Regions from separate parts of the Homo sapiens genome. Here regions 2, 3, 4, 5 and 6 are each reported to be linked to region 1. Evidence: microRNA targets listed by miRTarBase, many of them from high-throughput screens and not tested one by one. Region 1 holds a microRNA gene; each other region holds the end of a gene's coding sequence.
Evidence for each region. The annotated mature microRNA hsa-miR-1247-3p reads CCCCGGGAACGUCGAGACUGGAGC and lies in region 1 at 1,409-1,432, shown strand. An mRNA with a match to its seed (bases 2 to 7 or 8) in the 3' UTR can be bound and repressed. Matches are read on the target gene's strand: a 7mer-m8 pairs with bases 2 to 8, a 7mer-A1 pairs with bases 2 to 7 and ends in A, and an 8mer does both.

Region 1 (5,110 bases):
GTTGAGCTCCACTTCGGGCTCGGGCTGCCCCCGGCGGCGGCGGCCCAGGAAATGCTTGCGGATACACAAGAAATCGAGAAGCCAGAGCATGAAGGCCGTGCCGAGGAAGCGCGGGAAGAGCACGAGGCACGAGGCGGTCTGGGCGCAGAGCCTCAAGGAGTGAAGCAGCAGGGAGCGGAGCATGGTGGCTGCAGGCCCCGAAGCCCCCTGGGACCCCTCGCCCTCTCCGACCACCAACCGCGACGTGGCCTGGCGAGGCATCTGGGCTTCAGCAGTGCAGGGAGTTCAATTTATAGCGGAGGCTTCAATTGGCGGGAGACTCCACCTCCGGCCCGGCCCGCCCCCTTGCAACTTGAGCCCGGAGGGATCACCCAGCAGCGCGGCCAATGCCCTAGAAATCTTGGGCTGAGGGCGGGCGCAGGCGGGCGGAGGGCGGAGCGGCCGGGCCTGGGGCCGGTGGGGGCGGGCCCGGGCCCCGCAGCCAGCTCTCGGGGGCGGGGGACTCCGGCAGCCGCTGCCGCTGGGGACCGGGAGCCCGACCAGGGACCTGGGCGTCCGCTGGGGAGGTCCTCCAGCTGGCGCGAGCGCTGCGCGCCGCCCTGGTCCCCGCCGCCTGGCTCCGGCCCGCGCCCCCCTCGCCGCGCACCTGAGCCGAGCTCCCCGGCGGCCGCCGAGCCGCGCCGGAGCTCCGGTTCGCTTCCCGCGCGCCGCCGCCAACGCCGCCCACGCCGCTGCCGCTCGTGCGGGGCCGCTGCCCAGGTGCCGCGGGAGGCCGGGTCCGCGGCCGCCGCTTCGGTGGCCCCGGCTCCCGCCCCACCGAGGACGCGGGCCAGCGAGGAGGCAACTTTGCGTTCCCGCCGCCTTCCTGGCTCGCCCGCGGGCGCCGCTCGCCTGCCGGAGCCCGCCCGCCCGCCTCCCGCGCGCGCTCACACTCGCGCCTCGCACACGGCCGCCCCCCGCACCGCCCCGCCACGCACACCGCGCTCCGCGCCCCCCGCCGCTGCCCGAGGCTGCCGCGCGCCGCCCCAGCCCGCGCCGCCCTGGCCGCGCCCGCCCCGTCCCATCTCGTTCCAGCGGGGCGCCGCGGTTCCTGGGTCAGCGGCCGCCGGGGCCGGGCTGAGAGGTGCGGAGGGCAGAGCCCGCGGGCGGGTTACCGCCGGGCGCCGGAGACCGGAGAGCTGGGGAAAGCGGCGCCGGCCCTGCGCCCCCAGCCGACCCGGGCGCGGGGCGCCACGGGCGTGGGGCGCGGGGCAGCGGGCGCGGGGCGGCGCCGGCCCCGGGCGGCTCTCCCACTAGGGGTAGCTGTTGCCTGAACGCCGGAGCGCTCCCCTCTCGCCGCTTGCCTCGCCCAGCGCAGCCCCGGCCGCTGGGCGCACCCGTCCCGTTCGTCCCCGGACGTTGCTCTCTACCCCGGGAACGTCGAGACTGGAGCGCCCGAACTGAGCCACCTTCGCGGACCCCGAGAGCGGCGGCGCGACTCACCGCGGAGGCGCCCGGACGCGTCAAGTGCGTACTTTCAACCGTAAATGGGTGCTGAGCGTTTAGGGGTGCGGGGCAACTCCCTAACTCGTGGGGCCCTGGCCGGCCCTGCCGCGGCGTCCGAGACCTTCTGATCCCTCGCTGCGCGCGGCGCGGGGTTGGCGACTTGGGCTCAGGGGCGGCGGGGCGGGGAGGTGCCTTGACCTAGGGACCCAGAGGCCGGGAGCAAGTCTCCTTTCGCCTTGGACTGCAGTGTCCCCCAGGGCAAGGCCTGAACCAGGTCGCGAGGGTCTGTCTCCCGTCTGGGGAGCTGAACTGCCCGAGACACTGTCGCAGTCGCGGGGACTTGTCTGGAGCGGCGGGGTCTGAGCCCAAGTCGGAAGCCGCCGCCGCCGCCAGCGTCCCGTGCGCCTGCCGCCCCGGGACCAGCCGCGAAACTTCTTCTCGGGACGGAGACAGCGCTCGCCGCCCGGGCCGAGGTAGGAGCTGGCTGGGCTCGGTAGAGCGCGGGCGAATCGCTTTCGGCAGCGAAGGAACGTGTCGGGAGAAGCCAACTGCAGGACCAGGGCCCCAGCGGGCGCGCAGAGACGCCTGCCTTGGGCGGAGGTCCCCCCCTCCGGTTTTCGTGGCTCTGGTAGGGCCCTCTGTCCCGTGAGCTCCTCACTGGACCTGAGGCTACAGGCTTCAGCAGGTCAAGCGCCCGAGTGTGCCTGGAGGATTGGCGGCGGGGTGGCATGAGAAGGTGGCCCCTCTTCTCCATCTCCCAGTCAGGCGATTTCTCTGCTGTCTGGGGCAGGGGCGCACACCCCAGGAACTTACTACGTAGAGGGAAGCCAGCCTGGTCTCTCCCCCTTGCGTCAGTGCTCCTAAGCTGCCCCTCACCACTCTGGGTAGGGGTCTTTCAGGTGGGCTAGGGAATTCTCCTTGGAAGTCCCCTTGTTTGCTCCCCTCCATCAGGGCACCTCTGAGTTAGCCAATCATCCTCTTTTCTGGCCTCTTTTTTGCGGGGAGGAGAGTAGAGAGAGAAGCCTCCTACTCGGCAGGTCTCTGAGAGGAGGTTTGGGGGGGCTTCTGAGGTTGCTCCTCCTGGGCAGAGTCAAGGGGTGTTGAGGGTTCCAACTTTTACTGGACAATCTCTCAAGCTCTGATTCCCTGATTTCTGGGAGGTGTCAGTGTAGGGCTTGTGTCCTGCCCCACCCACACAGCATTTGGTGCAGGCACATGGGATGGTTCCCCAAGCCCTTTTCCCACAGTTAGTTTCAGAAAATGCATAAGCCACCTAAGGCTGGGAGAGCCTTTCTGTGCTGGCTGAGATCTGGTGGCATGTGCATGCATATGTGTGCAAGTGTGTGTGTGTGTGTGCAAGTGTGTGTGCGCATGTGCATGTGTGTGGAAAGTATGGTCTGGGTGGCTGTAAGACTGGCCCCTCTTGTCCCCTCTGCAGGCCCAGCCCAATAGGAAGCACCTGATCCACACTCTTTCTAGCCCCAGGGATGCTCAGGAAAGCAGCCTTTCTTTAGGGCTGTCATCTGTTCTGGGGATCTGTTGCTGTTTCTTGGGCCCACAGAATACACTCCACACCTCGGGACTCCATAATATTGGACAAGGCTGGAAGGCCCATTTGGCTCCTGCAGCCTCTTATGCAGGTGAGGACAGACCCAAGGTCCAGGCAATGCTGGCCTTTGGAACACAGAACCTGGCTCACTGACTCCCACTCCAGTTGTCTTTTCCCTCTGCCTCTGGAGCAACCCTCTCTCCTCCAGAGCAACCCCTGTCCCTCCTTCCTACCTCTCTCTAGGGCTGCACCCCCAGCTCACCTTAGACCTGGCCCTTCCTACCTGTTGCCCCTACTGTCTTGTCCCATCCCAGTGGTCAGGAGGGAGAGTACTGGCCAAAGGCCCAGCTCCACCTGTGACTTAGGGGAGTGCCAGGCATCACCCAGAGGTCCCGGCCCTCGGGGGCCTGGCAGGCTCTGCTGTGGGGGAAGCAGAGTTAGAACTGGGGCTGCTTCTCCTGTCCCCCAGCCTGGCTGGGCCTCCCCCACCTCCCTTTCTGCCTGCCCTCTTACAACTCCAGCAGGGGGCGGGCAGGGGAAAGAAAAGGAGGGACAAGTTGGATGGGGTCCATTTGGTGTCCAGGAACAACTTGGAGAGAGGCGGGGAGGGGACAGGCAGCAGGGCCCTGGCAGAGCCAGGGGAGGGCTGGCCTTTGGATGGCCTTCTGATCCCAAGCCCATCCTCCTGGGGCAGTCTTCCCTTGAAAGGGAGGGTTTGGTGAACCCTGGTGCGGACCCCCCCGCCGGACCTCACTGCCCCAGTGCGGGGCGTGGTAGGCGGGTTTGCAATGGGTACAGCCTCTCTCTCCATTCCAGTAGAGCAGCTCCCAGGGCCCAGAGAGGCTGTCACTGAGACTTCCCTCTGGGGTGGGGTGGGTTCTGGTGGCCCTGTGTTCCCCTGCAGGAGGACCTCCTGAGGCTTCGGGCAGGAGCTGGTGCACACCTGGAGGAGAGTGCTGGTGAATGGCAGGTGTGTGCCTCAGTGTCCTTGCTGCCAGGGTGTCAGCCCTGCTTCACCACTGGCCGTTTGTCTCTGTCCCCTCCACTGGCCTCTTGAAGCACAGAGACCCTCCGGGTACTTTCCTTCCTCTGGGCTTCCACTCATGCTATTCCCTGCTCCCTTTTTCTACCTGGAGACCCCCATTCCTCCTCCTCCTCTGCTGCCCTCACCTCCACCTGGGCCCTCCCAGCTCCCGGGAGATGGCTGAACCCCACTCCCCACCCGCTAGTCATCCTCTTCAGCGGTCCTCCCAGAGCTGTCCTCAGCATGGCAGCCTCCACAGCCCCTGGGTGTCACCCCCGGTTTCGTGTCTGCCTCGGACTCCAGACCTGCCCCTCCCAGGCTGGCCCAGATGGATCCTCTACAGTGACTAACCCAAACCAGCACCAGGCAGGGACCCAATAAACCTTTGTGAATGGAGTAAATGAGTGCGGTGTGTACTTACTGAAAACTCCTTGTTTGGGGAGAAACTCAGGGTATTTCACTCTGTCCTTTTGCGCACCTGCAGCAGTGAGCTGGGGCGGCATGTTGGCAGCCAGGGCTGAGCACGGTGGGTCAGGACCTGCCGCTGTGAGCAGACAACACTTCCTGGGAAGTCCCCTTGGGGCGTGGTGTCTGGTGAATGCACCCATCACCTGGTCACTGGGCCAATCCGTTTCCCTTTCTGGGCTAAACAGGTCTTCCCACGGGTACCTGGGCCCTCCCACGGAGGTATTTACCCTTCTCATTTACTTTAAGAATGAATTCTTCTATCCAAACACTTGGCTAGGTTGATCATGGGGACACCCTGCAGGGGATGGGGTGGGAGATGGCTGAGGGACCCAGAGCTCTGGTCTGAGCGGTGTCCTCAACATGGCAGACCTCCATCCCTCTGGGAGTTTGAGGCAGGCACAGGGGAGGTGGCGGGACTCTGGGGTGACTGGGCAGGCTGGGATCCCAGCCAGGACAGCTTGTCAGGGCCCCAGGGCCTGGATCTAGCAGAGGTGTTTGGCAGCATTTGGGGGTTGGAGAAGGTCTGGGGCTCCCGGCCAAGGAGAGGAGAAGGCCTAGGAGGCAGTGCCCTGGCTACTTGCTGT
Region 2 (5,110 bases), not on the chromosome of region 1:
AAAAAAAAAAAAAAGAATGCCAGGCACAGTGGCTCACACCTGTAATCCTAGCACTTTGGGAGGCTGAGGTGGGTGGATCACGAGGTCAAGAGTTCGAGACCAGCCTGACCAACATGGTGAAACCCCGTCTCTACTAAAAACACAAAAATTAGCCAGGCGTGGTGGCGCACACCTGTAATCCCAGCTACTTGGGAGGCTGAGGCAGGAGAATCGCTTGAACCCAGGAGGCAGAGGTTGCAGTGAGCCCAGATCACGCCACCGCACTCCAGCCTGGCGTCAGAGCGAGATTCTGTCTCAAAAAAAAAAAAAAAGAAAAAAGAAAAAAATAAAATAAAATAAAAACTCTGTAATGTTATATTTGAAGAGAAAATACTAATGTAAACTTAAGATTATTTTTCATCTGAAAAATACATTACTTCCTGGTTCTTTCCATTGAAAAGGCTTAGAAGCAATTATGCTTAATTACCCCAGGCAGCAACAAACGCACCTAGCACTCCGATCGTGATTCTTAAATGCCATTTCCACTGAACAGAACCAGAGTCAAATGGGCCTGAGAACTGTTAGTAAACCAGACATCCTTTTAGTGGGGAATTCAGAAACCAATTCAAAGAACAGCTAAATCTAAGTCTCGGACAGAAAATATAGAAGAGGGGCCTGGACATTTTGATGTTGCCAGAAAGTAAGGAAACTACCAAAAACTAACACCAAAAGTACATAGAAGCCATCCTAAACAGGTTCTCACAGACAAAAAACAACAACAACAAAAAACAACAACAACAAAACACAACCATATAAAGGGTAAAAAATATAATTATTTAAAATTTAAAAAAAATCTCATTGAATACCCTGGAACTTGGCCACCAACATCTTACTATGAAAATTAAAAGAATTAAACCTGTATTCTGCTTTTCCCGTATTTTTGTATGATCTGTATTTCTTTCTTTTTTTTTTTTTTTTTTTGAGACGGAGTCTTGCTCTGTCGCCCAGGCTGGAATGCAGTGGCGCAATCTCCGCTCACTGCAAGCTCCACCTCCTGGGTTCATGCCATTCTCCTACCTCAGCTTCCCAAGTCGCTGGGACTACAGGCGCCCACCACCATGCCTGGCTAATTTTTTTTGTATTGTTAGCAGAGAAGGGGTTTCACCGTGTTAGCCATGATGGTCTCGATCTCCTGACCTCATGACCCACTCGCCTTGCCTCCCAAAGTGCTGGGATTAGAGGGGTGAGCCACCGTGCCCGGCCCCATGATCTATATTTCAAGTCTATTAGATCATCCTGTTGATGAGGAAAAGTTTTTTGTTTGTTTGTTTTTTGAGACAGAGTCTTGCTTTGTCACCCAGGCTGGAGTGCAGTGGTGCGATCTTGGCTCACTACAACTTCCACCTCCCAGGCTCAAGTTCTCCTCCCACCTCAACCTCCTGAATAGCTGGAACTACAGGTGTGCACCACCTTGCCTGGCTAATTTTTGTATTTTTTGTAGAGACAAGGTTTCACAATATTGCCCAAGCTGGTCTCGAACTCCTGGGCTCAAGTGATCTGCCTGCCTCAGCATCCCAAAGTAGTGGGATTACAGGCATGAGCCACTGTGCCTGGCAGGAAAGTTATCTTTATAGAAGCATTTCAGCTCATCAAATGCAGAGGTAATAATACAATTGAAAAATCAGACGGGAATGGTGGCTTACGCCTATAATCCCAGTATTTTGGGAGGCCTAGGCGGGTGGATCACCTGAGGTCAGGAGTTTGAGACCAGCCTGGCCAACATGGTGAAAACCCATCTCTACTAAAAGTAACCAAAAATTGGCTGGGTGTGGTAGCACACACCTGTAGTCCCAGCTACTTGGGAGCCTGAGGCAGAAGAATCACTTGAATTCAGGAGGCAGAGGTTGCAGTGAGTTGAGATCGTGCCACTGCACTCTAGACTGGGTGATAGAGCAAGACTCTGTCTCAAAATGAATAAATAAATAAATAAATAAAAATAGAACTGGAAAAATCATCATTTGCGGCCAGGCACGGTGGCTGATGGCCATAATCACAACACTCTGGAAGGCCAAAGTGGGAGGATCACTTGAGCCCAGGAGTTTGAGACCAACTTAGGCAAGATGGTGAGACCTCATTTCCACAAAACAAAACAAAAGTCACACGTGGTGCTGCGTGCCTGCAGCTGTTAGGGAGGCTAAGACAGGTCGATCTCGGGAGCCCAGGAATTCAAGGCAGCAGTGAGCTATGATCACACCACTGCACTCCAGCCTGGGCCATAGAAAGAGACCCTCTCTCTCTATAAAAAATAAATAAAATTTTAAAAATTAGCCAAAACATGGACCACATAGTAAGACCTTGTCTCTATTCAAAATTTAAAAATTAGCCAGGCACGGTGGTGTGTGCCTGTAGTCCCAGCTACTCAGGAGGCTGAGGCAGGAGGATCACTTGAGCCAGGAGTGTGAGGCTGCAGTAAGCCATGATGGTGCCACTGCATTCCAGCTGGGTGACAGAGACTCTCTTTCAAAAACAAAAAAGTTAGGGTATGGTGGCTCATGACTGTAATTCCAGCTACTTGGGAGGCTGGGGCAGGAGGATTGCTTAATCCCAGGAGGTCAAGACTGCAGTTAGCCGTGATTGTGCAACTGTACTCCAGCCTAGGTGACAAGAATGAGATTCTGTCTCAATTAAAAACAAAAACAAAAACAAAAAACAGCAGCAGCAGCAAATCACCATTTGCCATTTCAACTAAAATGATTAATTCAGGCTATGATCATCAATGGATAAAATCACTTGATAAAAAGGACTTTACAAATGAAGGAACCAGGCTGTCATTACCTGAACCCAGTGATCACATCAGCCTTACTAAACATAGGAGAGCCAGAGCCAGACATCCTGTTTCTCCAGATGGGAGGCAATACACAGTTTACAGTAACACCTAAAGAGCCAAAAAACTTGAACCTAAATCTAGTCAAGGCATTTAAAGCTAACTTCCATTTAACAAAATAATGAAAACAACGAACAGATTAAATAAGAGGTTTCCTGACTCTCGGCCAGTGAATAAATCTTTCCACTATACCACTACTAACCTCTCTGACCCTCAGGACAAATAGAAGCTGCAACCTTAAGACTGATTTTCCTTTTTCTGAGACGGAGTCTTGCTCTGTCGCCCAGGCTGGAGTGCAGTGGCGCGATCTCGCCTCACTGCAAGCTCTGCCTCCTGGGTTCAAGCCATTCTCCTGCCTCAGCCTCCCGAGTAGCTGGGACTACATGCGCCCACCACTGTGCCCAGCTAATTTTTTGTATTTTTAGTAGAGATGGGTTTCACCGTGGTCTCGATCTCGTGACCTCGTGATCCACCTGCCTCAGCCTCCCAAAGTGCTGGGATTACAGGCGTGAGCCACCGCGCACGACCAAAGACTGATTTTCAAAAGGCACTGATATGGCTTGGATTATATGTCCCCTCCAAATCTCATGTTGAAATGTGATCCCCAATGATGGAGGTGGGGCCTGGTGGGAGGTGTTTGGGTCATGGGGGTGGATTCCTCATGAATGGCTTGGTACCCTCCTGATATGGTTTGGCTGTGTCCCCACCCAAATCTCATCTTGAATTGTAGCTTCCATAATTTCCACGTGTTGTGGGAGGGACCTGGTGGGAGATAACTGAATCATGGGGGCAGTTCCCCCATACTGTTCTCATGGTAGTGAATAAGTCTCACGAGATCTGATGGTTTTATAAGGGGAGACCCCTTTTGCTTGGTTCTGATTCTCTCTTGCTGCTACCATGTAAGAACTGCCTTTCATCCTCCGCCATTATTGTGAGGCCTCCCCAGCCACGAGGAACTGTGAGTCCATTAAACCTCTCTTTCTTTATAAATTACCCAGTCTTGGGTATGTCTTTATCAGCAGCGTGAAAATGGGCTAATATACCTCCCCATAGTAACGAGTGAAGTAGTTGTTAGTGCACACAAGAGCTGCTTGTTTAAAGGAGCCTGGCACCTCCTTCTCTCTCTCTTGCTCCCTCTCTGGCCATATGACACGGCTGCCCCCCTTTTGCTTTCTGCCATAAGTAAAAACCTCCTGAGGCCTCACCAGAAGCCAAACAGATACGGGTGTCATGTTTATACAGCCTGCAGAACTGCGAGCCAAATATAAATTACCCAGTCTCATGTATTCCTTTATAGCAACACAAAACAAACGGACGCAGGCACCTTTCTCCATCCAAAGCATTCAAAAACCTTAATTTTGTTTTCTCTGTCTGCTCCCAGACTAGAACTAAGCAGCCAAAGTGAATGCTTAGCACACTCTCGGGGAAGCACAGCTCTGTCTTGCACCAGTGCCAGACGCCACCAGAACAGTGGCGCAGGCAACCGGATGAAGACAAGACATTCCTCTCCCAGCAGTGTAACACCATCACAGGAACGGTTCTGTCCGGATGGCTGACTACTGCTGGAAAGAAACCTGCTCAATTTTAAATCTGCCAGCCACTTTTTAAAGTTGCTGGATCTCACAATGCCAAGTATAAACAGTTACTTTTTTGATCTGCGTCTGAAAGAGTGCATGCAAGCTTAATTTTGTAAATTAAACTGTATTTATTTAAAAAGGCAGGGTGATAGCAGAATCTAAAAAGAATCTTAATGAGATTTAGGTAAGCTAAGGCTTAAGTTCCAATTTTATTTCTGCTCTTCAGATCGTGTTTGCATTCAGCAGCTTGCCCTTGCCACGTGTTAAAATGGCCATAAAATGTGAGAAAAAGTCAAGGCAAACTCTGACTGCCTGACCATACTGATAAGAAAGGTCACAAGCATAGTCACCTCAAAGACTGAGCACTGTAGAGCATGTCTTCTTCCTCAAGGCCAATGATACTTCAGATACCAGATGGTTTCATTTTTCAATTGCGGTCCAAAGAGAGGGTTGAGTTGGGCCAGAATTGCAATCAGCCAACTAAAAGAAGGATGGGAGAGAAACAACGAAGCGGTGAAATCATGTTGGAACATGACCATTTTCAATTAGCATGGAAAAAGTACACTAGCAAAACTTAAATCTACTGCATTCACACCAAACTTTCCATATACATTGTGTTAACAGCAGCATGTCTGATAACAAAATGTTTCCCAGGACGTAGCCTGCCTTC
Region 3 (5,000 bases), not on the chromosome of region 1:
TTCTACAGAGAGATTAACTGTATTAAAATTTGTCAGTGTAAGGAAAGGTACAAAATTATCAAATATCATATTCCATATTAAAATTGAATTGCTTTAAAACATTCAAAACCACAAATATTAGACAACTACCTTCTTTAGTTTTCAATGCTTTTTCTTTCTTGTAAATTTACTAACGGACTAATCTTATAGTTGAGACCCATCATATATTAAGCCTATTGTTGGTACCCAGAGAGTGAGAGGAATGTTTTTACTTGTGTCCTAGGAATCCATGTCAGTGAACGCCTCACATGGAAAAGGATTTTCCCGACCTGCTAGACCAGCAAATCGTCGTCTCCCCTCCAGATGGGCATCCAGATCTCCATCTGCACCCCCTGCCTTGCGGAGAACTACCCACAACTATACCATTTCTCTGCGATCCGAAGCATTGATGGTTTAAGTCTTTGGCCTGGATTGCTATATTACAGAAGTTCTAGTCCCACTTGTCAAACAGAGCATTCTGAGTGTTTACAGGCGGACCTGTTCTCTTCCGACAAGCAATTTGAATCTTAACTTTCCATCAGTCTTCAGTGTTTTTAATCTAAGGAATAATTATCTTCCTGCATTTTGATTTCTTAGATCAGAATTTTTTAATGCCATCCTCATTAGTTTTCCAATACAATATAAGTTGAAACAATGTACAATATTGTATATTCTTTGTTGCAAGTGGCAGAAAGTAAGGTTATGTGCATGGCCATGTGTTTGTAGGTGCATGTGTTGAAATAGGAAGTATCCTAGTATGTATTTAGATATGAAAAACTTATGTGCTAGTGTTGACTTTGAAATTATAACATGTATACCTATATATTCTTTGTGTTTATTTAAAAGTTTTGAAAATATGCAGTACTGTTTATATTTTGTATACCTTTTAATAGGTATCCACTTAAGGCATTTGCAGTACAAATATTAATTGACCACTTCCTTGGCCCCCAGCTACAATGAAAAAGAAGAATTATGCACACATCTAACATTGGTAGATTTCTAAAGACAACTCATAAATAATTTCTTAACCCATATAAGGATAAAATAATACCATTGATATTCTTGTTTATTCTTTTTAAATAAAAATGTCACAAGTTTAATAGATCAGCCTTGTAAAGCAAGCATAAAATGTTCATAAATGTTTTATATATTATTTGGTAGTCTAGTATGGCTTTAACTGAATATTTGATCCTCAGAGACAGTATCATGAGACTGCATTATAAATGACATGATTAAATGATGAATTTATTTTGTCAGCCTCAGCAACAAACATTTCCTAAATGGGATGCAAAAAGAAACTGAATGATGTTGAATTTTAGTTTTTCTTTAAGTTGTGGTAAGCTTTTAGTTTAGCTGCTTTAACATGGAGTCATACATACTTAGAGGTAAGTCATTTATTATTTTTTTCCTTTTTCTAATCTTTTCCTTAAAATTAATAGATAACAAACTAAGTTACTTTTTTACTAACAAGGAAGATCAGGAATAATATTTCTTTGAAAGCTGAAATTATACTTCTCACAGTTTGCTACCGAAAAAAGGCTTAAACTAAACCTTGACATCCACAGTAGCATCAGGAATAGAAATGTGTATTTTGGCTACAGTTTGCATACAGTGAACACATAAAATCTATATTGAAAACTGACAGAAATATGAATGTCGAGGGGCTTGGAATTCTAAATGGAAGATTTTAGAAGGAACTTTGCTCTCTACTGTCACTATATAAAACCAATTATGTTATGTTATTAGATATTAACTCTATTTAAGCTTTTCTTTTACTAAGAAATTCTTATGCCAAATGTATTCCAAGAGCCATCTCCTTATGATGTATTTGAACCATTTAGAGAAATTCACTTCATTGTACCCCATGACCTGAGGTAAAGAAAATAATTTTCAAATTGCAGACTTCCTTGAAAGGCTCAAGACTGTAGCATGGTGATGTCTAGATTCATACTTTACTGTAAGGACAGTTTCGGTAGTTAAGTGGAATTAAAGGTCTAGAGTGATTTGTATTGGATGGTAACTAAGGTCTATACATCTACTCTTTTAATTCTTATTTCCTTCAGGAAGATCCTTTTCCACAGGAAGCTATCAAAGAAAAGTAAACTAGACACCAAGTAATATCACTCTCATAATATGCTTTCCAGCTAGAGGGGAGAAAACACCAGGAAAGAGGAACCCTGGGTCATAAAATGACGGACCTGTTAGGAAAATGCTGTTGTGTGACAATGGAGAGCCTGCCCAAGGACTGTGCAACCTATCTGTTCCTCTCCACCAGTGTATCCCAAGTAGTCTGGTATGATCTGTGGTTCCTTAGAATATTGAGGATCTCTTTAAAAAATGAAATTTCTGATCTCACCCCATATTACTAAAGCAAAATTTCCAGGGGTAGGGACTGGGACTCCAGAACCATTAATAAAACAAAACAAAACAAAGCAAAATATTGATGATCAGGCAGATTTGAAAACAGTGACATTGCTTGATCTCTGAATGGATGGATGCCCTTGGGTGGTCACTTTTCTTCCTAGGACTTGCCTTTGTTATCTGTAAATTAGAATGGCTATACTTTCAGACTTCACAATTTTAAGCCACTTTTTTCTATTAACAGTTGAATGAACCAGTGGGACACATTTTAACGTCTTCTTATGTTGACTAAAATTATAGTTAGAGCTGAGAAAAAAAAAATAGCATCTAGTCCAACTCCTTGATTGTAAAACTGAAAAACTAAGGTTATTTGAATGTTCTGTTTTCTCTTTTTAAATATTTTATAACTTTTAAATGGAAAAACCTATTAGGTAAATGGAAATAATCCTTGAAAATAGTTTTTGATGTTTTGTGATTTTTAACTGGTAAATTTCTACTTTAGGTGGGCATTTTCTTCCCTAGAATATGCCCTTTATTATGCTATCATTGCTAGATTTAAAGGGACTTGTAAGCATTTCTGGAAATATTTGATTTAAAAACATATATTAATAGATGTTTTCCCTAGCAGACTTTTGGAGCAAAAATATTATTTTAGTTCAGCAGAGGATTACTGATATTATGGGCTGATCTCAGAAAGGAATAAGGATGAGGCAGAGAGGAGTACTTGAGTTTGTGTGTGTGTGTGTGTGTGTGTGTTTGTGTCAGTGTCACATAAGTTCTCCATATTGCCTTATGTCCCAAAGCCAAATATAAAAATATAAATGATGCTTTGTATAATTCATTTTATCAAAAATTACCCATAACTTTCATTTGTTTTTATATCGACAATGAAGATGATCATATTTCATTTTGCAGATGTGGCCATAAAATATTATTTACTTCTATATAGGTGATTTTACCAGGTTTAGTTATCCTGAGAAAACATCTGGACTTAAGAGTTTCTGCTTCCCTACAAAGATCTTTAAAGTTATTTTTAGGCACATTTGTGACAAACAACTACTTGATATTGAAATCTCCTTCAGCCATTAGAAGCTATCAAATAAAGTAGGTGTAAAAACAACTGTCTGTGGCATTTGTATACATCGAGAACATTTTTCTTTCCCTCATTTTCTGCAGTGAACTCCAGTAAAGCTAAGTGTCTTATGAAATCTAAACTCATATATGTACACAGTTCACTCTAGCTTCTTCCAAAATATCTCTAGGTAGTACAACTGAAGCCAAACCTGCCTGACTTCCTGCTCCTGGCCACCCAAAACTCCATATGGCTTCTCGTACACTGACATCCTCTCTCTACCCATTTAACTGCTAATTGAGTCTGATAAAAGTCTTCTTTGAAAAAAGTTTTTACTTCTAAGATTTGCATTTACATCATAAAATTAAACCATTTTCAGGAAAATCAGATTTTTTTATTACAGTACTATTTGCTTTAAATTCGGCATGTTTTTCTTAAGTAGCAAGTACATGTATCGGAACTTAGAACTGGTGGGCGCGGTGGCTCTTGCCTGTAATCCCAGCACTTTGGGAGGCCAAGGTGGGGGGATCACGAGGTCAGGAGATGGAGACCATCCTGGTTTCATCACGGTGAAACCCCCTCTCTGCTAAAAATACAAAAAATTAGCCAGGCATTGTGGTGGTCACCTGTAGTCCCAGCTGCTCGGGAGGCTGAGGCAGGAGAATGGCATGAACCCGGGAGGCAGAGCTTGCAGTGAGCAGAGATCGCGCCACTGCACTCCAGCCTGGGTGACAGAGTGAGACTCTGTCTCAAAAAAAAAAAAAAAAAAGAACTTATAACTATGACTTGTTCATCTCACCCTGAAAATATGTTCCTACAAGAAAATGTGCTTTGCAAAGCAAAAAAGGCAAAAATTGGGGATGAGTTCTTCAGACAAGTACCAAAAATGATTTCTCGTCATTTTTATTGTATGCATATTCATCATAGAAAATAATTTTTTGTTTTATTGGGAATAAAATCATGATACTTAAAATCTGATACACATTTCAATGATAGTATTAATCCAATAGGTTAAATTAACAAATTCTTAGGAAAAAAATCTGTTTATATGAAGCTATGGAGAAATCTAGAAAGTAGGTAACGGTTTAGATTTTGAGGGACCTATGAACTCAGAACAAGTTCATTTAGAGGTGGGAAACCTGAGATTCAAAGAGGTCTGCATGGCTGCCAAGATTGCAGGGACAGAATCCAAGCCTGGGCTCACTCATGATCTGCTCTCCTGTATAAATGTCCCATGTGCATCTATGACCTTATTGTTTGCAAAGCAAATTCATATTCCACGACTTGTCTGCTTCTTACAACAAACTACAAGGCAGGCATTGTGATTTCTAAGTAAGAAGGAAAAATTAAGTAGTCAAGATAATATTTAGAATAAATATTTTTGAAGATGATAGTTAAATAGATGGCTCTTCAGACTCCTAGCTCAGGCTATTTTTCCAGCCTTCTTTTCCCAAGGAAGAGAAGACAAAAAAAAAAAAAGATTGAACAGCTCTTTTTCATTTTTGTTTTGTTCATTTTATACATGACACAAATTGTTTATCTTGCTCTC
Region 4 (5,110 bases), not on the chromosome of region 1:
TGCAACCTCCACCTCCTGGGCTCTAGTACTGCCTTAGCCTCCTGAGTAGCTGGAACCACAGACACGCACTACCACACCCAGCTAATTTTTGTATTTTTAGTAGAGACGGGGTTTAGCCATGTTGGCCAGGCTGGTCTTGAACTCCTGGCCTCAAGTATCTGCCCGCCTCGGCCTCTTAAAATGCTGGGTGGGATTACAGGCATGAGTCACCGTGCCTGGCCACCGTAAGTGTTTTCTATATTAAAAACAATTGCTAAATAATTTTGTATCTTAAGGATATAATATTATTTACTAGACCATTGCATTTTTATAAATTCATTTACAAGGATATTTTGTCTTATTTTCCCAGGCCTCAGCTGTGTCGGTATGATCTTGTCCTGATGGAAAACGTTGAAACAGTCTTCCAACCTATTCTTTGCCCAGAGTTGCAGTTGTAACTGTTGCCAGGACACATGGCCATAAATAATAGAAAGAAAGCTACAACCACAGGCTGTTTGAAAGCTTCACCTCACCTTTCTGCAAGGCAGAAAAAGTATGAAAAAAACCAAGGCTTTTTTCAGTAGCGTCCTATGGATGTCACATTGTACATCAAACAACCTTGTGATTATAAAACGATCCTGGGAAGGAGCCCCTAACTAGGGCAAGTCAGAAATAGCCAGGCTCGCAGCAGCGCAGCGCTGTGTCTGCTGTGTCCTGGGGCCTCCCTTGTTCCGACCTGTCAATTCTGCTGCCTGTCACGCGGGTGGTTCTGCCCATCGCGGCTGCGGGTCAAGCATCTTCAAGGGAAGGACGGACTGGAGGCCTCACCGTGGACTCAACTCTGCATTCTCCGTGCCACATTCCTCCAGTTCCCACACGTAGAAGGGAACGAAACTGACGTCTACCTCATGGGGCTGCTGTGTGGGTTTGGGAGGCAAAAATCTATGAAGGGTTTTTTGAAATCCCATAGGTGCCACATCTATGAGATGTTTGATAAATGTGAATATGCTTTTACATTTGGGCTTATCTAATTTGCAATAAGAGAGCCTCTCTCTATCAACACCAGCTTCTCTCTCGGGCTGTTTGCTCAGGGAAGGCAAGAAAGCCACGTGCTGGCCCTCTGCCTTCTCTAAAGTGCTGTTGGAGCATGGAGGAGCTGGAGGAGATGGGGATGGACTGACAGCTAAGAGGGCGGCTGCTGGGACTAGATAGTGGATGAAGAAAGAAGGACGAGGAAGCCGTGGGGCAGCCTCTTCACATGGGGACAGGGGATGGAGCATGAGGCAAGGGAAGGAAAAGCAGAGCTTATTTTTCACCTAAGGTGGAGAAGGATCACTTTACAGGCAACGCTCATTTTAAGCAACCCTTAAGAAATGTTTATGTTTCTTTATTACCAATGTAATCTATGATTATTGAAGGAAATTTAGAAAATGCGTAGATACAAAATTAAAAAAAAATACTGTCCACGATCCTATTAGAGGTAATTAATGTTAGCCTTTTGGAACAAGGCTGTCACCTATTTTGCCAACACGTGAATTCAAAACATGAACCGGTTTGCTTTTGGAGAATCTGAAGACTCCAGTTTGAGGAATCCTTTGCTTCCCTGGAGGTAGATGCTGTCTGCAAATCTAGAATGACAGCAGGAGTCCAGTCAAGAGGTCCTGTCAGGCCAAGGCCAGAAAGAAGGGAGGACAATCCCTGGGGCCAGATGCCCAGTGTGAGGGGAGGCATGATCTGTCCCATGGCTGTGGCCACTGCAGGAAGGTCTGTGAAAAGGAGGTGACAGGCCCAGTCACCTCCTCTTCACCCAAGTGATTGCTCCTTCAACTGCTATCTGTGAAAATAGCCTTTGTTATGAAGAAATTGACTCTCTCTCTCTTTTTTTTTTTTTGGAGTTGCCTAGGCTGGAGTGCAATGGTACGATCTCAGCTCACTGCAACCTCCACCTCCCAGGTTCAATTGATTCTCCTGCCTCAGCCTCCTGAGTAGCTGGGATTACAGGCATGTGCCACCACACCCGGCTAATTTTTGTATTTTTATTAGAGACAGGGTTTCACCACGTTAGCCAGGCTCGTCTCGAACTCCTGTCCTCAGGTGACTACCCGTCTCGGCCTCCCAAAGTGCTGGGATTACAGGCATGAGCCACCACACCCGGCCAAAAATGGATTCTCTATGTCATAAATTAAAGAAATCTATAAATGTATTCCTGTGTGGCACATCTTCTTACAGATTTACATTTGCAGCAAATACAGAGTCTGTTTTATTTAAGTGAGGGATGACTGAACTCTGAGTGGAACAAGCTCTTGGACATGTTACCATCCTTCCTCCTCCTTCTCACATTTCCTCAGCAATTGTGGATAGAGAGATCAGTGTGCTGTAGGCCCTGGTTTTTTTTTTTTTTTTTTTTTTTTTTTTTTAGATGGAGTCTCCTTCTGTTACCCAGGCTGGAGTGCAGTGGCACGATCTTGGCTCACTGCAACCTCTGCCTCCCGGGTTCAAGCAATTCTCTGCCTCAGCCTCCCAAGTAGCTGGGATTACAGGCGCCCCCACCATGCCTGGCTAATTTTTGTATTTTTAGTAGAGACCTGGTTTCACCATCTTGGCCTTGAACTCCTGACCTTGTGATCCACTGGCCTTGGCCTCTCAAAGTTCTGGGATTACAGGTGTGAGCCATCGTACCCGGCAGCCCTGGTTTCTTCTTAGTTTTATTGGTCTGTGTTTTGATCAGCACAGTCACTTTTTTGTTCTCTTTCCTGGTAAGCAGGGAGTCAAAACAATAGCAAGAAAATGCCAGAAATAGAATTTCTACTACTTTGTAAACTCTAGGCTCGTGGGTCTCCTAGCTCTCAGTACCTGGCTCACTGTAGGATGGGTAGATGGGTGAATGAATGGATAAAGAAAGGAAGTTTGTTCACCGGAGAGGAGATGAATTTCAGTAAGTTTCATGTAACAGTGATCAGGAGAAATAAAGGCAGTTATAACTGTGGCCACTCTGTTCTCAGAATCTTTCTTCCAAGGGCCCCTGGAACTTTTGACTGTCTCTTGTTATCCTTGCTTCTCTTCCCCTCTCTTTCTCAGTACCATATATCTGTCTGAGTGCCAAATTCAAAGCACAATTAAATTACAGTCTACCCTCTTCCCTCCCCTCTTCACTGGTGACCTCCTACTCATCATTTGGATCGTGGCTCAATTGCCACCTCCTCAGGGAGTCTTCTTGGACCTTATTTCCATACAGAGAGGTTCCACACTGTACCTCTCCTTCATAGCACTTTTTAGTTGTATTTTTAAACATTTTTTCTTTTTTTTGAGACGGAATCTCACTCTGTCACCTAGGCTGGAGTGCAGTGGTGCAATCCTGGCTCACTGTAACCTCTGCCTCCTGGGTTCCAATGTTTCTCATGCCTCAGCCTCCCAAGTAGGTGGAACTACAGGCCAGTGCCACCATGCCCAGCTAATTTTTGTATTTTTAGTAGAGACGGGGTTTCACCATATTGGCCAGGCTGATGTCAAACTCCTGACCTCAAGTGATCTGCCTGCTTCGGTCTCCCAAAGTGCTGGGATTACAGGCGTGAGCCACCGCACCCAGCCTGTTTTTTTTATTTTATTTGCCTGATTATTTGATAAATATCTGTCTTCTCCACTAGACTGCTCTGCAAGGCAGGAGCCATGTGCTTACCATATAGTCTGCTTTCAGGAAACATTTATTAAATGAACACTCTTTGTTATTTTCTGAGCCCCATGGAACCATGTTCAGTTGTGAGTAAAGACTTGCCCTCCACCCTAGCCATAGTCTGTTTCCATGAGGGTGCCTAACCTTCTGTGCCTTAGACTTTTCTCCCAGACACCTTCATTACTATTGTCTCCATTATCTTTGGAGGCCAATAGCCCATTTCCCAGACTTCCTGGAAAAGAGAGAAGTTGGCTCCTTTGTCACTTTTTTTTTTTTTTGAGATGGAGTCTTGCTCTGTTGCCCAGCTGGAGTGCAGTGACCTGATCTCAGTTCACTGCAACCTCCACCTCATGGGTTCAAGCTATTCTGCCTCAGCCTCCCGAGTAGCTGGGCTTGCAGGCACATGCCACCATGCCCAGCTAATTTTTGTATTTTTAGTAGAGACAGGGTTTCACCATGTTGGCCAGGCTGGTCTCAAACTCCTGAACTCCGGAGATCTGCCTGCCTTGGCCTCCCAAAGTGCTGGGATTATAGGTGTGAGCCACTACACCCTGCCCCTTTGTCACTTCTTATCACATCTTCCAGGTGGTCCCAACACCTCACAAGCTCACCTGTCGAAAATCTAGGGGATTTTGTCCTTACATCCTCATTTTAGCACCATTGCCAAAATGCTCCAGGACCTTACAACATTAGTGGAGGATGCCAAGCTGTAGTTATAACCCTCCCTTGTTTGCTTTTCCATGACTCTCCTTTCCACCACTCACTTTGCTGCCAACTTCGTATGTTGTATTAGTCCCTTCTCAGGCTGCTATGAAGAAATACCCAAGACTGGGTAATTTATAAAGGAAAGAGATTTAATTGACTCACAGTTCCACATGGCTGAGGAGGCCTCAGGAAACTTACAATCGTGATGGAAGGGAAACCAAACACATCCTTCTTTACATGGTGGCAGGAGAGAGAAGAATGAGAGCTGAGTGAAGGGGGAAGCCCCTTATAAAACCATCAGATCTCATGAGAACTCACTATCACGAGAATAACATGGGGGAAACTACCCTTATGATTCAATTACCTCCGACTGGGCCCCTCCCACCACAAGTGGGGATTATGGGAACTACAATTCAGGATGAGATTTGGTGGGGCCACAGTCAAACCATATCATACGTGCTTCTGTCACTGCTGTTACGCTGTGTTGTAATTTGTTTCCGTGTCTTTAACTCCTCCAAGACTGTGACCTCCACAAGAGCAGCTGCTATTTATTTTTGGCTCTCTAGCACCTAGCACAATGCTAGGCACAGAGTAGGTGCTTGATAAATGTCTGTTGGACAGAATGGAATGGATGATGCTTAGAAACTTGAGGGAATCACCTCCATTCTGACTTAGACATCAACACACTTAACAATGTTATTTCTAAAGTCCTAAACTTAGAACCTCCTACCCTTGGGCTCCTGCCCCTTGCTCTCA
Region 5 (5,000 bases), not on the chromosome of region 1:
ACACCACTGCACTTCAGCCTGGGCAACACAGTGAGAGCCCATCTAAAAAAAAATTCTATTATTAAATGCTGGATTTTGTGTACAGTTAAGATATATACAATTGAGTACAATTTAAGTTTTTGTGTGGGTTTTTTTTTTTAAATCATATTCAGTAAAAATTGTTTTGTAGCTACACCACCTGAAACTCAGCAGTCACCTCATCTTAGCCTGAAGGATATCACCAATGTCTCCTTGTATCCTGTTGTGAAAATCAGAAGACTTTCTCTTTCTCCAAAAAAGAATAAAGCAAGCCCAGCAGTGGCTCTGCCTAAACGTAGGTGCACAGCCAGCGTGAACTATAAGGAGCCCACCCTCGCTTCGTAAGTATTTGGTTTGTGGGAACTTATTTTTAATGATACATGTCGGGGGGAATAAGGTTATGGAGCTTTGTTCAAGAATGAGTTTTTTCTGAAATATAAACATTTGATTTAAAAAAACTGAAGTGAGAACATTTAAAATTGGTGTGTTTTACCATAACTTGGTAGGGAAGAGTAAGTTAATATTGGGATGCTTACATTATGCCTGAGATCTCTTTTTACTCTTACAGGAAACTGAGAAGAGGGGACCCTTTTACAGATTTGTGTTTTTTGAATTCTCCTATTTTCAAGCAGAAAAAGGATTTGAGACGTTCTAAAAAAAGTATGAAACAAATACAATGAAGGTTTTGTTGGATATTGTTTAAATTCAATCTACACCTCTTTCTGTTGCTTCAGGAGAGGATCTGTAAGAGTACACAAACAGAGTGAGCCATTGCCATAGAATATTCTCTTGACAGGACCCTAGCTCATAAACATTTCTTCAGAACTATACTTCAAATGGGATGCTTTGTATTAAAACTTTAATAAATTTAATTTATTTTTTCTTTTGAATATAAATAACTGAGCTTAAGCATTATCATCATATCGATTTCTTATGCTGCCTAAACCTCTTAATTTTAGTCGAAATATATCTTTTTTTTTTTTTGGAGGCGGAATTTCATTCTTGTTGCCCAGGCTGGAGTGCAATGGCACGATCTCAGCTTACCGCAACCTCCGCCTCCCAGGTTCAAGCGATTCTCCTGCCTCAGACTCCCGAGTAGCTGGGACTACAGGCATGTGCCACTACGCCCGGCTAATTTTGTATTTTTAGTAGAGACAGGGTTTCTCCATGTTGGTCAGGTTGCTCTCAAACTCCCAACCTCAGGTGATCTGCCCACCTCGGCCTCCCAAAGTGCTGGGATTACTGAGCCACTGTGCCCAGCCCAAAATGTATCTTATACAAACATTGTAGAAATGAATAATGATTACTCAAATAAGATCTTTTAATTATAAGCTTCTGGCATCTCTATTTTTCCCTTAAGTAGGGGATACTAAAGTGAATGATTTTCTAAGAGGATCTTTTGAAACTCTTTAGTACAATATTTGAGTAAAATAAATTATTGTGGATCTTTTGAAACTCTGTGTAGTATTCGAGTAAAATAAATATTTGACATTTACAGTAGGGTACACCCTAAGTTGTTTATGAATTCCTTATACCACTGTTATATTTAATTTTTCAGATAAAATATGTATGGGAAAATGACTAGAGAAATTGATTCTTTTTTAGGCTCAGGGACAAGATAAGTGACTAATTGTGAACCCCAAGCTCTAATTGTATGTTCAGAGTGATGTCTCCATAAAATTACAAATGTCATGTACTTTCAGGGTAGCTCCTTATTTAGTCAGAAATCTCAGAGATTAAATGTGTGAATATTTAGGGTTTTTGCATATTTTTGACCAACCAATGAAAGCGAATTAGTTCAGTTTAGAAAGTTTGATGTCTATACTTGTATATACCTCTTTAAATTTTAGAACTTTGTAGGTTATTCATTTTTAAAGAGCAATAAAGTTTGTATAAGATAGTGATTGCTTTCCTTCTATTCTTTAAATATCAAAAATAGAGTATCTCTCTGTCTTCACTATTCTCATCCTTGGACATTTCCTCTCCCCTCCCCTTGGTATTCTCTTTTTTGAGGGGGGGGTGTTCTAGGTGAGTTAATCCTTAGTATTTTCAGTAGTCATTGCTATAAAACTCTCAGCTTCCCCTCCATACTTTCAACCTAACACTTCTCTCTCCCAACTTATCTCTGTGTAATCTCCCAGTTCATGATTAACAAATTATAATTTTATTGAGGGACTGTTCTAATCCTGATATCTCAGATTTTCTTGGCTGTTATCTCCCTATCTTTCTGTATTCTATGTCAGTCAGAGCCAAAATCCTTTTCATCATCCCAAATTTTTCTATCCGCCACATCACTGATTCATACACCCTAGTCTTCCATCACAGTCTCTTAATTTTTAAGTTTTTTTTTTCTTACTACTCCCTTCATACTTATTCTTTAATTTCATGGAAACACTAGAGTAGCTATCTTAAACTAAGACTACAGACCATTAAAAAGTCAGTTTCTCAGCCAGGCACGAGAAACTACTAACACCTGTAATCCCAGCACTTTGGGAGGCCAAGGCGGGCAGATCACGAGAGGTCAAGGAGATCGAGACCATCCTGGCTAATACGGTGAAACCCCGTCTCTACTAAAAATAGAAAAAATTAGCCAGGCGCCTGTAGTCCCAGCTACTTGGGAGGCTGAGGCAGGAGAACGGCGTGAACCCGGGAGGCGGAGCTTGCAGTGAGCCGAGATGGTGCCACTGCACTCCAGCCTGGGTGACAGAGCGAGACTCCATCTCAAAAAAAAAAAAAAAACAGTTTCTCAGTCCATGTAACCACCTTTCAAATGATCAGTAGCCATATGTGGCTAGTGGTTACCATATTAGACAATTGAGGAAATATTGAACATTTCCATCATCACAGAAAGTACAGTTGGACTATGGGCCAAATCTAGCACACCACCTGCTTCTGGATGGTCTTCAACCTAAGAATAGTTTTTACGTTTTTAAATAGTTGAAAAAAAAAAAAAAAAGCAAACATTTGAAATCAATTTTAATGATAGAAGCACTAACTTTGAACTCCAGTAAAGTACCTACATTATATTCTTGAGTTTGCCTCTTGGCCTACAATCCTAAAATATTTACTTTCTGGTCTTTACCAAAAAAGTTTGCCAACTCCTGCTCTAGACCATTGAGTACTTTACTTTTGCCTTAAAGATCATTCTGGTCTGACACTCTGATCTAGCTTTGATCCTTACCTTCCCTTCATCCCCAAAGTCAATCATTATCCTAAAATCAGTGTTGAATTGTTTGTATTTTTAGTGTTCCTATAGTCTTGCTGTCATATTTGTTCATAGGCTTTTAAGTATTGTTTTATATCTTAACATTTTATAGGAATATTGTACACATCATTTTACAACTGACTTTTAACTCAATATTGTTTTTGAGATTTATCCGTGTTGGCAGATGTAGATTATTTTCATCATTGTACAGTTTATTATATAAATCAGACTTATTCATTTCTTCTTTTGAGACACAATTCATTTCCACTTTATTATTTACAAATTAGTGCTGCAGTGAATATTCTGCATCTTTGTACACTTAAAGTGCTTAACTTTCTATAAAGTTAATACCTAGAAGTGGAGTTGCTTGGTTGTAGAGTATATTGAACTTTAACTTTACTATTAGTTAGGAAATTGCTTCCTACAGTGGTTCCACCAATTCTGTTATAAGGAGTATATCACTCTCCTAATAGCAGTTTCTAAGTTCCAGTAGCACCACACACTGTCGATCACTTAGTTTTATTAGACATTAAAATTAGCCAAGCCAGGAAGTATGAAATTATTTCTTTGTTTTAATTACTATGAACTTGTATCTGATTGATTTATTTATGAGAATTCAAGTGTTTATTATTCTCATTTCTTCCTTTATGAATTATTATATCTTTTGCCTGCTTTTCTAATAGAATGTAAAACTATGGATTTTTTATATAGTCTACACACTATTCCTTTTTTTCTGTTGACAAGTATTCTAAGTATCTTTCCTCAATCTCTGCCCTTTTTTATACCTTGCTTATAATTCCCTTTGATATTTAGGAGTTTTAAATATTAGTATCGTCTACCACCTTCTTCCTTAAGATTTTGTCTATAATTTGTACATTTTTGTTTTTCACTTTAAGGTCTTTAAACCATATGGCATTTATTTTGAGGACTAGGGATCTAATTTTATTTTTTCCCATGAGGATAACCAGTTGTCCCAGCACAATTCATTGACTAATGTCTTCTTTCCCCACTGCTGAATATTCCTAGCTTTGTCATAGAATGGGCTTCTTTGCATTGCTTTATTTGTTTAGCTTTATGCTGGGTATATTGTATAGTCACAATTTTTTTGTGTGTTGGTAGGGGTGGTAAATATACATAGAATTTATCATTTGATCTTTTTAAATTTTATTTTTGTTTTTTTATTCTCACTCTGTCACCCAGGCTGCAGTGCAGTGGCCAATCATAACTCACTGTAGCCTCAAACTCCTGGGTTCAAAGGATCCCCTTTACCTAGGACTACAAGCTTGCACCACTGCACCTGGCTAATTTTTTTTTTTTTTTTTTTTTTTTTTTTTTTGGTAGAGATGGGGACTGGCTATGTTTCCTAGGCCAGTCTTAAACTCCTGGCCTCAAGCAATCGTCCAATCTTACCTCCCAAAGTGCTAGGATTACAGGCATGAGCCACCACACCTGACCATTTTGATCATTTTATTTGTAAAGTTCAGTAGCATTAAGTACATTCACATGATTGTGCAACCATCACTACCCTTTTCCAGAACTACTTCTTCTTCCCAAACTAAAACTCTATACCCATTGAACAATCACTCTCTCTTCTCCCCTCTCTCCCAACCTCTGGTAACCACTACTTTTACTTTCTATCTCTATGAATTTGACTGTTCCAGGTACCTCACAGAAATGGAATCATAGGATATTTGTCCTTTGTGTCTGGCTTAGTTAGCATAATAATCGCAAGGTTCATCCATGTTATAGCATGTATCAAAATTTTATTCCTTTTTAA
Region 6 (5,110 bases), not on the chromosome of region 1:
TGGGCAACTGAGCCAAGCGTGGAGCAGAGTGCTGAAGACAACGAGCCCACAGAAGAATCAGCCCCCAGGGGAAACGAGAGCTCTTTAGACGCGCTGAGAGTGAGGGAGCAAATCTTGGTAGATACTGAAGTCTGGAGCTCAGGAGAGAGGCAGGGGCTGGAGACCAGTTTTGAGAGTCCTGAGTGGATTAGATCACCTTGGGAAAGCAAGAGGCAGCAGGAATGGAGGCTCAGTGAAGTGCAGTCATGGGCCAAACCCTGGAAAAGACAATGTTTTAAAGAGAGCTGGGGCACAGATGTGAGAAAAAGGAGGTCCAGAAGGGTCCAAGAAGCAGGAGGAGAACCAGGAGAGAAGGGTGGTTCCTGAGACCAGGACGGTTCAGGAAGACCAACAGCACGCACTCCTTCGGGGCCCCCCTGCTGCTCTCTCTTGCTGGACTTTGCTTAATGTGAGCAAACTGTCACAAATAAGCTGATTGAGCTCCCATCAAAAGAAAACTGCAAGCATGCCTCTCTCATCTTTTAACTGTTTATTGTATAATATAAAACTACAAAAGTAAGACTGCTCATTTCCATGTACATTTAATCTGTCCAATTGTTTAGATTACAGCCCAAACCTACATGTGAATACAGCCATCTGGGTTCCGATGTAACGTCTGTAATATTGCATAGAAAAGGCACAGCTCTCAGGTCTGTGGGGGAAAGGTTATACCTCCTTTTTGACAAAAGCCCTCCTCAAAAACCATGCACCAAACATGTCACTATGTACATCTTTTTTCAAAATCTCGGTCATGCGCACATATGGCCTGCATTTCTCTTCCAAAACTTGTTATCCCCAAAAGAAGTCCAACTTTTTATTGGCTTTGTCTGCAATAGCATTTGATCCTGGCTAATTTTCAAGAACCATTCAGACTCATTCTTAGAAACACTGAAAACAATTGTACATAAGCAGGATGCACACAACTCCATGCCTCCAGGTGCGGGGCAGTTACAGGAAGGTAACCATTTACAGCCAGAAAAGGTTAAATATACTCTTTTCATTGTTTTCAGAAAATGTATAAAGGTCCAATTTGTAACAGCAAGGTTTTCAAATTAAGACAATTCGTATAGAGTAGCAATTGCTGCACGAAGTAGAGTCTTTTTTTTTTTTTTTTTTACATTTGTCATTTAAGAAGGCTGCCCTGCGGTATTCATAATTCATTGTTTACCACAAAGGTGGTTCATAAATTTAAGCTTTAAAAACGATCTGTAAGTTGATACTTTGGCTCTTTGGAGCTTATTTCATTAAGAAATTTTCCTTGATTGACCTCAGGGCAGCTGGGGCACTCCAAGGGGCTATGGCGATAAAAAGCTCAATTGGTAAAGACACTCGAGAGGTGCAGAGGAGGCTCTGGCCACTGCTCACCCTTTGGTATGAACAAGGGTGCCCATGTGGTTGCTCCTTCTGTCATCCAGAGAAAGTGCTACTAAAAAAACTTTAAAAAATATCAACCCTTTGATGCTTTTCTTAAAAATTTGGAGGTATTAAAACATTCCTCATACCTTTTGCATATTTCAAATAGACCCATATTAGAGAAGAGTAAAAATGAATGCGGACTGTGCATACAATGAGAAGACCTGGGGGCCTGGCTTGGACCCCCTTTTAATACAGATTTACATTCCTACAAGAGAATACATTCCTACCATACATTCTGCACATGTTACGATCCAGATGTTAGCGCTCCACAGTAAAATAAATATATTTACACAGAAAAAAGGAATAAATAACTTATGGGGGGAAAAAAACTCACTTCAAATTCAAAGCTCTTACGATTCTGCTCTCATCTTGTCACTTCATTGCACATCAGTGTCAATAACTGTCCTCTCCCAGCCCCAGCTCGGTTTTCTCGTAAAGGCACCTCAAGCTGCCTGCCTGGCCCTGGATGCCATGTGATGTCTTTCATAAAGGGAAGGCACTGCTGGAAGCACATCCCACACTCAAACTGGGACTTGGAGATCCCACTCCAGCTCCTACTGTTCCCTGTTGGGACATCACTTTGTAAGAATAGGATGCAAAAGCAATTAGAACCCTAGATCATTTTGATCTTTCTGAAAATGGGCTGCTAATTTTCCATGTCTTTCTTGTTAGACTTTGAGTATCAGGGATTTATGGCAACGGTGTCAGAGTTAAAAAGCATTTGCCTGCTGTTTTTGGGGTTTTTGTTTTGATTTTGAAGCCCAGCCTTACAAATACATAAGAGTCAGAGAACCAAGTTTGGGCAACACTTCTCCGTGCTTATTTGAACTGTTGCCCAACATATGGGATTTGTTTAAACACATGATTTGCTAATCCAACAAAAGTACAGTTGTTGTAAGTTACTGTAAATCAGTTTTTAACAATGGCAAACCAACTGTTTTACCCTGTTATTGTTCAGAATCATCAATACTATTGTATATGTGTACGTAGGTAGATGTGTGCAGCATGCGGCAGGTTTGCCAGGTCCTCCAGTTATAGAAAGCATGGAATCTGGGCAGACTTGTTCTCTGCAAGAAAGGGAAGCTCTTAAAATTAACAGGCATACTGACACTGGAAGCATCTACTACAACCCTCACCTCAGTTACATGGTCCCTGGTCCTATTAAAGGAAATGACACACCTGTAGCAGTACGAGGTGTCTGCGTGGAGGTTGCTTGTAGGAGAACAAGTGCAATTTGATCAGTTTCTCACTGCTCTACTGAGCTGATAATTAGCCTTTAAAACACATTCAAGTGGGGGGAAAAAGTAAATTAGAATGTAGAAAGCCTTTATCATATCATACTCAAATCTTTTGCTTAGATGAGCAGTTCCTTCATCACAAACGTCTTTGCTTTGCCATGTGCATTACAAAAATAAAACTAACTATGGCTTGCTTAAAGTGCCATTTTATAAAGTTGTCTTTTTTAATTAGCCAGAAAGACCCAATTTTATCCATGGCAAGAAGTGAGCAGAATTGGTGACTGAATATTGACAAATGACCAACAACAAAGACAACAACAACAACAAAACATCCCATAATTTAAAAATTTTTAAATAAATATAAAAGTTATTCCTAAAGAAGCCATCTGCATAACAATATAGGTTGTAACCTGCACTCAACAGCTAAAGTACCATTGGAAGAAAAGAAAAAACTGAAACAAGAAGGCCATAAACAGTTTCGGCAACAAGCATGATACATTGCAACCTTTTTAAAATTAAATGTACACCACTAGGAATAAAAAGCTACTTCTCAAGTGTGTCCTGGGAGATAAGGTGATGGGGGGGGGAATTGGGGGGAGGAGGGAAAACATGCATAGAAAGTCCTGTCTGAGTTTTGGGGTAAAACAGCCTTGACAAGTGTGAAGTAGCTGACTCAGGAAAGCAACCAGATGGGAAGCTGTGACGTAATGTGATGAACTCCAGGTTCAAGAGTCACACATGTTGTAAGAGTGCATCCCGGGCCGGCCGAGGCGAGCCAAGCTCACTGTGGTGATCACGAAGATGCCATTTTCAGCTCTTAGCAACACAGGGAAAGCTCTAGGGAAAGGAAGCTGCAGAAGACAATTAAGCAACATGATGGATGCCTTCTGGGGAGATTTTCTTCTTTAAGGGCCCTAAGCATTGCAACAGGGCTGAGTTCCATGAAGAAGTTGGTTGCTTTTCGGATGTAAAATTTTGTTCGGATGTAAAATTTCAGGTCATCATAAAAATTATGCCAAAAAGGAAAGATCTGGGTTTTCATTAAAAAACAAAATAAAAACAATTAAAAGCGCAAACTTGGCATAAATACACTCTTAAGAAAGACAGTAGCTTTACCCTCAAAAGAGGGAGCAAAAGAGAACCATCACTTAAACCCCCAGCTCCACAGCCATCTCCCGCCAACTGCTTAATGCAAGTTTGATGAGCACATGTGGCTCTGGCTTTGGAAGTCACAGTACTGGCGGGTGTTGGTGCCAGGGGGTCAGTGCTTGTGAAATTTGGGTGTGATATCACCTGGCCCTTTCTTAAAGCACTGTGTGTGTGTTTATGGGTGTGTGCATGTGTGTGCCTGTGTTTGCATTTGGGGACATCAACTGCAGATTGATTTGATCCAATTTTCTCTTGCACCATACACATATAAAACATTACAACTCTATAAAAGTACAAGTGCAACTTGTACATCTGAAGTTTGCAGGAACTATGTGAGCAAATCCTATCAAAATAGCTATCTCATATGTATAAACAGCATTTGTTTTTAGAAAAACAATATCATAAACTGCAGAATCTGTACAAAAATATAAAATAAATTTGGGCAGCAGTTTTCTAAACAGCCATGTAAATGCAACACTTACGAGGAGTAGTTAATGCCTCTAAAAAGGCCGAATTGCCAAGTCAACCTATACAGGGCAAAAATGCCAGAAAAGGTACTGAGATTATCTAAATAAGATATATATATATAGTTTTCTTCTTTACCTCTTGCAATAAAACTTATAGAAAAAATAGACAAATATGCACATGCAATTTACAGCTTTTCCAACTTAATCCTTGTGCTTCACTTGAACTGTTTATTTTTGTCATTCAACATTGCAACATTGTCTTCAAATGGATTCTTTCCTATACCAGGGTAGTAGGTCTCTGAGGAACCACTCAAAAAAGTGTATTAAAAGTGGTCATACTTGGATGAAGGCACTCCAACTCTGCTCAAAGCAAAAACTAGTGTGATCCTGTTGTAAAATTTTCTTTTTCTCTGAAAAAGGCAAGCAAGGGTGCATGCACAGTGTGGAGAACTGTCAGGGTTATGGGAACGCTCTGGGGTCTGGGTGGGCATAGTCGCTGGGTCCCTGGGTCTTAGGACCCAACAAGCACCTCCATGATGTGGTCCAGCTCTGTGAGGTCCATTTTGAAAGGCTGACTTGGGGTGACAGGCTGACTGCTGTAAGGAGCCAGAGTTTTGAGGAGGTCGTCGGCAGACACAGGGGCCATTTTTGAGGCTGTCCCTGATGAGGAAGTGCAGGGGTCAAAATCATACATGGACGTATCAATGTCAGCAAACAGGATGTCATCCAGGGTCAAGTCTGTCAGGAAACCCGTGGACGTCGTTATTTCAAAATTCCCAGGCAGAGAGTCCATCAGTTTTG

Region 2: the mRNA of ATP6V0E1 is a reported target of hsa-miR-1247-3p. The part of its 3' UTR that is shown has no 7-base or 8-base seed match.
Region 3: the mRNA of KIAA0408 is a reported target of hsa-miR-1247-3p. Seed matches in the 3' UTR shown: 7mer-A1 at 4,125-4,131.
Region 4: the mRNA of LIPH is a reported target of hsa-miR-1247-3p. Seed matches in the 3' UTR shown: 7mer-m8 at 2,467-2,473.
Region 5: miRTarBase lists SGO1 as a target of hsa-miR-1247-3p. The part of its 3' UTR that is shown has no 7-base or 8-base seed match.
Region 6: miRTarBase lists SERTAD2 as a target of hsa-miR-1247-3p. Seed matches in the 3' UTR shown: 7mer-A1 at 3,448-3,454.

What each region holds. Positions count from the first base shown.
Region 1 is chr14:101,556,648-101,561,757 of GRCh38, reverse strand. It overlaps MIR1247 (microRNA 1247), which reads left to right and starts at 1,336; the gene lies at 1,336-1,471. It overlaps DIO3 (iodothyronine deiodinase 3), which reads right to left and starts at 263. Exons shown (of 1, transcript NM_001362.4): 1 at 1-263. The coding sequence starts at 261. DIO3OS (DIO3 opposite strand upstream RNA) reads left to right here and starts at 1,336. Exons shown (of 2, transcript NR_152588.1): 1 at 1,336-1,506.
Region 2 is chr5:173,020,048-173,025,157 of GRCh38, reverse strand. ATP6V0E1 (ATPase H+ transporting V0 subunit e1) reads right to left here. Exons shown (of 4, transcript NM_003945.4): 3 at 4,791-4,920. The coding sequence ends at 4,827. SNORA74B (small nucleolar RNA, H/ACA box 74B) reads right to left here and starts at 4,432; the gene lies at 4,229-4,432. RefSeq lists a silencer at 4,638-4,932.
Region 3 is chr6:127,439,545-127,444,544 of GRCh38, reverse strand. KIAA0408 reads left to right here. Exons shown (of 6, transcript NM_014702.5): 6 at 263-5,000. The coding sequence ends at 436. It overlaps SOGA3-KIAA0408 (SOGA3-KIAA0408 readthrough), which reads left to right. Exons shown (of 13, transcript NR_174482.1): 13 at 263-5,000. Among named protein-coding and RNA genes, the nearest start is that of KIAA0408, 17 kb to the left of the region's middle.
Region 4 is chr3:185,504,117-185,509,226 of GRCh38, reverse strand. It overlaps LIPH (lipase H), which reads left to right. Exons shown (of 10, transcript NM_139248.3): 10 at 350-2,965. The coding sequence ends at 437. It overlaps TMEM41A-DT (TMEM41A divergent transcript), which reads right to left. Exons shown (of 3, transcript XR_924792.3): 3 at 4,483-4,964. Among named protein-coding and RNA genes, the nearest start is that of TMEM41A-DT, 7.5 kb to the right of the region's middle.
Region 5 is chr3:20,166,402-20,171,401 of GRCh38, reverse strand. SGO1 (shugoshin 1) reads left to right here. Exons shown (of 8, transcript NM_001199251.3): 7 at 170-359; 8 at 587-1,918. The coding sequence ends at 698. Among named protein-coding and RNA genes, the nearest start is that of SGO1-AS1, 5.4 kb to the left of the region's middle.
Region 6 is chr2:64,631,107-64,636,216 of GRCh38, forward strand. SERTAD2 (SERTA domain containing 2) reads right to left here. Exons shown (of 2, transcript NM_014755.3): 2 at 515-5,110. The coding sequence ends at 4,821. Among named protein-coding and RNA genes, the nearest start is that of SERTAD2-AS1, 3.3 kb to the right of the region's middle.